2 linked regions of the Homo sapiens genome follow. The protein of the gene in region 1 interacts with the protein of each later gene in a biochemical or structural test. Each region holds a gene or a part of one and is shown in the gene's direction. Other genes may lie near its edges.

The links.
Region 2: the proteins of CYTH1 (region 1) and ITGB2 form a complex in vitro, tested with the Homo sapiens proteins (one study listed by BioGRID).

What each region holds. Positions count from the first base shown.
Region 1 is NC_000017.11:78,772,274-78,775,773, reverse strand, and holds part of CYTH1 (cytohesin-1), read left to right. Parts: intron 1-3,500. UniProt on the Homo sapiens protein: Promotes guanine-nucleotide exchange on ARF1, ARF5 and ARF6. Promotes the activation of ARF factors through replacement of GDP with GTP.
Region 2 is NC_000021.9:44,896,900-44,900,399, reverse strand, and holds part of ITGB2 (integrin beta-2 isoform 1 precursor), read left to right. Parts: coding exon 1-80; intron 81-1,237; coding exon 1,238-1,333; intron 1,334-3,500.

The sequences.
Region 1 (3,500 bases):
AGTTAGCTTCAATTAGGGAAGTTGTCAACAGAGAATTTTAAAATAATTTTTAGGTGAGTTTTCAAATGAAAAGGAAGAGACGTCTGCAAATGTCCTTTACTTATTCAGCTTCTGAAATACCTTACTTTTTATTTGCCTTTGATGTAATTTTTACATTGAGTTCCCAGATTGATTATCTAAAGCAGGAAAGGTAGAACTAATTCATTATCTAAAACAAGAAAGAACAAATTTCAAGTTAAAATAGCAGTGTTTTCAGCAAGAATTAAAAAAACGAGGTTTCACTTTCTCTGTAGAGGAAGAGTGGTGGGGTAAGACATTCAAGAAAGTTGTTCATTCGCATATTTCGAGAAGCATTGAGGTCCAATTGCATAAAAACGTATCTGCTGTCTCTAGCTTTGGCCTTTGAGGGAAGGATATAAGGGAATACTCAGGACAGGGGTAAAAAGAAAAAAGACCCTTAGCACCCGAGGCTTTCAAGATCACTCTTAATTAGTAACTTCCTTCCATCTCTCCTCTTCCCCTAACCCCCAGCGGCCCCCCCAATCTTCATGGGCCACAGGAGACTGTCAGGGTGTTCAGCCTGGTTTCTGTGCCGGGTTAGGTGTGGTGTCATAACACACAGAGGGACCTCAGGAGGACTAACCCTGTGGTCTGTGGATGGTGTGATGCCTCGGGAGCTGGGGTGACTGCAGGGGTGGGTGCCTAGTGGCACAGAGGGAAAGCAGGCAGCAAGTCCAGGGCCGTTATGCCAGCCACAGGTGGTGGGCTGTCTGAGGGAGCAGTGCCTTGCGGCAGTTCTAACCCGATTTCCCATGCCGAATGCCCTGGTGGGTACTTCGGGGGTTTGATAAGAAAAGAGAGTAGTTTCTTCTGTGTTTTCATGGAAAGGAGTTTTCTCACAGGCATAATCTTGAGTGTCTACTCAAGATTTGGGAACATTTCACATGTATGTATTACGGTTTGTGACCAAAGACTCTGGATAAAAGGAGGATTTATATCAGAATTATAGGAAGAGCTGTCATGCTGTACCATGGAGACCTGTGTGTGGGTGGTGAGAAGATTCAACAAGAAAAATAAGGTCTGGGCACTGGCATGTCTGGGTGCTGCTGCGGGCTGGGGAGAGGAGCCTGTTGCATTTAAGAAAGATTTGCCTTTTCATCACCATGTCTCCAGAATAGGCATGGTGCCTGGGGCCCTACAGAGGCAGCTCAGCAACTGTGGAGGGAATAATGGATTGAACCAAGTTCCATCTTGTAAAAAGTTAATATGTGGTGAGTTTGAGTTTTTTTCCTCAACTCTCCATTTCAAACAGAAACCAGAACACTTCTGTGCATGTTTGACCCCATGCAGAACCCGTTTTCTTTGTTTTTCTATGATATGGATGACTTCCATTATTCTCAAACTTAGTTACTAACTTACTGATTTGCCTTTATTGAAAAGAACACAATTATTTACAGTGAACACCTTCTTAGAAAATCTGGAACATAAGGTTGCCATAATTATACACACTTTGTGGTCTTTAAGATATATTCTCAGGGTGACATGAACATGTCAGAGTATAAACATTTTTAGAATTCTTGATGTCTGGTGCCAACTTTTTCCAAAAGGGCTGCACCAATTTACTCTTTTCTTAGCAATGTATCAGTACACGTACCTGTAATAGTGCAAATGTGCCCTCAGTGAGGATCAACATTTTAAAAGTTTTTTTTTAAAACAAACAAGCAAACAAACTGAATTTGGTGGTTACAAAATGGTGACTTATTAAATCTACTGATCACTAGCTGGATTGAAAAAAATTTTTATTTTGCATATTTGTGTATTATGAACTGGCTACATCATAAGAAATGATGGTTTATTTACTTAACTTAGGTTAACTCTTTTCTATCAAATAAAGTGATTTACAGGTTTTTGTCACTGTTTTAAGCATGGGGAAAATGTGTATCAGTTTTGACTGGGGTTTAGGTTAGATTTTGGCTAATTGTAACAGTCGTTTACCTTTCTTTTAATTTTTCTTTTAAAGATGAAAGATCTCTCAACCCATATATTGTCTTCTGGCCAACTACAAAATGTTTCCTTACGAGAAGAAATTGTGAATTAAATAGATTTTTAGAAAATTTAATTTAATTTAATTTTTTTTTTTTTTTTGAGATGGAGTCTTGCTCTGTCGCCCAGGCTGCAGTGCAGTGGCACAATCTCGGCTCACTGCAACATCTGCCTCCCGGGTTCAAGCAATTCTTGTGCCTCAGCCTCCTGAGTAGCGGAATTACAGGCGCACGCCACCATGCCCTGCTGATTTTTGTATTTTTAGTAGAGATGGGGTTTCACCATGTTGGTAAGGCTGGCCTCAAACTCCTGACCTCAGGTGATCCGTCCGCCTCGGCCTCCCAAAGTGCTGGGATTACAGGCGTGAGCCACCGCTCCTGGCCAGTAGATTTTTTTTTTGAAACTATAATTTTTCTTTTAATTAAATAGAGCAGGGTCTCACTGTGTTACCCAGGCTGGTCTTGAACTCCTGGCCTCAAGTGATTCTCCTGCCTTGGCTTCCTAAAGTACTAGGATTACAGGCATGAGCCACCACACCTTCCTGTGAATTAAACAGATTGTATTGGTCTGGGTTATAATGATAAACTGTTCAGTTTCAGGCTGGGCATGGTGGCTCATGCTTGTAATCCCAGCACTTTGGGAGGTCGAGGTGGGCAGATCGCTTAAGCTCAGGAGTACAAGAGCAGCTTGGGCAACATGGTGAAAACCCATCTCTACTAAAATACAAAAAAAAATTAGCCGGGTGTGGTGGTGCCTGCCTGTGATCCCAGCTACTCAAGAGGCTGAGTCACTAGAATCGCTTGAACCTGGGAGGCGGAGGTTGCAGTGAGCTGAGATCGTGCCACTGTACTCCTGCCTGGGCAACAGAGTGAGACCATGTCTCAAAAACAAAACAGGCCAGGTGTGGTGGCTCACGCCTGTAATCCCAACACTTTGGGAGGCCAAGGTGGCCGGATCATGAGGTCAAGAGATCGAGACCATCCTGGCCAACATTGTGAAACTCTGTCTCTAATAAAAATAAAAAAATCAGCTGGGTGTGGTGGTGCACGCCTGTAGTCTCAGCTATTCAGGAGGCTAAGGCAGGAGAATTGCTTGAACCTGGGAGGCGGAGGTTGCAGTGAGCCGAGATCGCGCCACTGCACTCCAGCCTGGCGACAGAGTGAGACTCCATCTCAAAAAACAAAAACAAAAACGAAACAAAACAAAACACTTCAGTTTCTGGAATCTTATGGCTCATACCTGCTCCTTTCTAAATGTTCCATGTGTTAATCAAAAGAGATTATGTCAAACAGATTTTTTCTTCAGTATTTCTTGCATTCACGATCAGTTAGGACACTTATTCTATAGTAAGAATTAGAAGATTGCCTTCTTATTTCAAGTATGGGGGGCACACATCATAGGTCATTTGGAACAGGAGAGATGAAAGGGATGAAACATCTCTGTGTATTGTGCTGGAC
Region 2 (3,500 bases), on another chromosome or scaffold:
GGAAGCTGGGCGCCATCCTGACCCCCAACGACGGCCGCTGTCACCTGGAGGACAACTTGTACAAGAGGAGCAACGAATTCGTAAGTCCCCACCCCAGGCACCCAGGCACCGCCTGGCAGGACACCACTGACGGAGGAGACAAGGGTGGGGTCTCCACCTGACAGAGCCTCCTTCTGACCCAAGGAGCAGATTCCTGAGGAAACTTCTGGAAGCCCCAAGTGGCAGCGTGGGGTCTCCCCGGACTGGCCTCAGGCCAGGGGAGGGTAGGGTTGGTGGGGGCAGCCAGGCTGAGGCCCGGCCTCGCCCTTGTGGGACACCCAGGCTCTGTTGGTCTCCAGCCCCACTGCCCCCCTACCTGGGCTGACAGCTGCTGTGGAGGTATAGTAACCGCCCCCAGGCTACGGCTGCACCCTGCCGTCCCCGCCTCTGGCCAGGGTCCCATCCCCAAGCATCCGCCTCCTCCCCCTCCCGGCCTCCACTGTACGTTCCCTGCTGCCCCTGAGTCCGCCTCCTCCAGTGTGGCCCCTCCCTGCCCCCATTGCCTGAGCTGGGTGAGCGGCTGCGGGGACCATGAGGAACATGCAGGGAGGGACAGAGGCGAGAAGGAGCCCAGGATGCACGGGTTAGGATGAGCCTCTCTGCGGAGGCATCTCAATGGCTCAGAGGGGCCAGGACTTCTGGCTGGGATCAGCCGTGGGCCGAGAGGCAACCACTGGTCACAAGGGGCTTGTCCTCGCTGGCCGTAGTGCGACGCTCTTGCAGCCTGACGTTGTAGGCTCTGGGGGCCGCAAAGGACTTTAGAGATACAAGACTCAGGTCCTCCGCCGGGAGCCACAGACGGGAGGGACGGCCCTCGGGTCCCGGAACTCGGGTAGGGAGAGCCGCACCTGACACTCATGGCCTCTACCGAAACTGAGTGTCCCTCAGTGCGAAAGCAGGTCCACCGTGTGGGGAAGGCTGGGATTCTGCCCCCGTGGACATCCCCAGTCCCACGGTGAGACGCCTCAAATGCTGCTCATGCCTGGACTCTGAAAGCCCGAGTCTATGCACACATTGCCCAGAGGGCGTGGCAGCTCTCTGCCCTGCACTCCTGCGTGGCAGCCTCTGCCTCTCCAGCCTTCCCCAGAGAGGGTTCGAAGCACGGGCAGGGCTGACGCTGAGCGGGGCAGACAGGGGCGGGTACCTGGAAGCCTTGTCCTGGACTCGGGGCCAACTGAGCAGGACCTCCTCTCTCCAGGACTACCCATCGGTGGGCCAGCTGGCGCACAAGCTGGCTGAAAACAACATCCAGCCCATCTTCGCGGTGACCAGTAGGATGGTGAAGACCTACGAGGTGAGTGCTGTTGGGTCCCGAGCATCCATTGGGTGGGGGCATGTTTCAGCCACAGGCCAGACCCAGCGCCACTGCAGGTCTGAGCGCCACCTCTGCATGCTGGGCACGTGAGCAACCAGCCGGCCCAGGTCCTGGATCCCCCTAGGTGAGGAGCCCGAGGCTTCCCGTCGGGGACAGGACGCCTGCGTGTCGATAGGAGGAGGAATTCCTCCCCGTCCCTGAAACTCAGCTGTGTTAACAGCATGTCTTGGCATTGGTGATATTTCTGTTTTTTCCTGGAATACAACACAATTCTTTATTTTATGGAAACACACTTATTTTATGCTCACATACATTTGAACATCAACACTCTCCGTGAAGATAAAATTACACAAAAACGTTCACAAGCTTGGAGTGCGGAGTGGGATGAATTTCACGAAGGAAGCACAGCTGATAACCAGCCTCTGCTCCTAGAAAAAGAGGCCCCCAGTGAAACACGTTCATCCTGCATTTCCGCTGCTAGTGCCATGTGTTCAGCCTGAGCAGGTCAGTGCGTCAAGACGCTCAGGTGCTGTTGGGGTTCCCAAGACCTTTCTCAGGATCAGTGATTTGCCGGAAGGACTTGCAGAGCTCAGGAACCAGTAAACTCACAGTTACAGTTTATTGCAGAGCCGACCCTCCTGGGTGCCAGCCGCTGCCCGAGGTGGGAGGATACAGACAAAAGTCAGCAAAGGTCAAAGGTGCACAGGAGAGAAACCAGGCACCAGCTCCCAGTGTCCCCTCCCTGCAGGGGTGTGGGCGGCGCTCCATCCTCCCAGCGATGATGTGTGGCCTCATGCACAGAACATGGTCCCCAAGGAGGCTCTTGAGCCTCGGTGTCTACTGGGGGTCAGTCACAGCGGCGCGGCTGACACCCCATGGCTGACCTCAGTCTCTAGCCCTCCAGAGGTCAAGCTGAAAACTGTCCAGGGCCCCACCCCAAATCACACTGTGGGACTATCCGGTGTGACCTGAGGCCCCAGGAACAATGACACCCCCATCGGGTAGGATGTACCAAGGGCTCAGAGGCTACCTCTCAGGAGCTCAGCCGGGGTCTACCACTCTTTGGCATGTGTGGGGTGTGGCCAGCCAGGCCTGCTGGGTGGAGCCCTGACTGTGTAACAGGGATTCGCTAGAAGGAAGGAAACACTGCACGCCCTCCTGAAAGGAGCCTCCGCCCATAGCAGCCTGCACAGTGTGTGGCCCTGAGGCCACAGGGACAGAAGGACTGAGCTGGAGGAAGGAGGTGGTTGTCATTGTACTTTACACAGCCACGTGCCCCGTTCTTCAGGGTGGAGCTGGAGGAACGAGATAGTTGTCATTGTACTTTACACAGCCACGTGCCCCGTTCTTCAGGGTGGACAGGGCCCTGGGTGGCTCACCTCACACCCAGCTCTGTTACTTACCACAGGACGCCCCAGGCCCTTCCTTACCCCGAGCCCTCAGTTTCCTCATCTGTGAAAGGGGTAGTGGTGCCCGGCGGGCAGTGCGTCGTGGGTACTGAGCTCACCCACTCAGGGAATTCACAGAGCAGCCGCCCTAAAGGGCCCGATTATCCTCATCCGGACAGTGACCGACCTGCTGGCCATTCCAGGGCCATCACCGCCATCTTCTTCAAAATGGCACGCAGGAAACCAGGGCCCCCTCTTCCCCCTGCCTGGGGCTCTGCCCAGCTGGGCAGCCTCACAGCCCCTGCCCTGCTGCTTAGGCTGAGGAGACATACTCGGGGTTTGGGGAAGGAAAGTGCCCGGGAGGGCCGCTGCTTTTGTAAAGTGAACATTTGCTGAACTACAGGGATCCATTGTCAGGCCCGTATCCCAGCTACAAGCTCAACCTCGTGGTGTGTTGGGGCCGACAGCGAGACCAGCGGTTCCTGCCATAGGTTCCCCGGGCTCTGGAGTGGGAGCAGGACCCTGCGGGAGACACGGGATGGGGGCAGGTGTCTGGGGGACCCTCCGAGTGGGCACCCAGAGCTGGTCAGGCTGCCGGGACAGTGGGTCAGCGCAGGGCAGGGCTGGGGCCGGACATCCACAGAGACCACCTGCTGGTCAGGATGTCACAGCCCTGTGTCCCATCTGTAGGTGGCCATGACGGTCCCCTCCTCACCAGCAGTAGCAGGTCCCAATCCTTTGCCATTTGTCATGGCAGC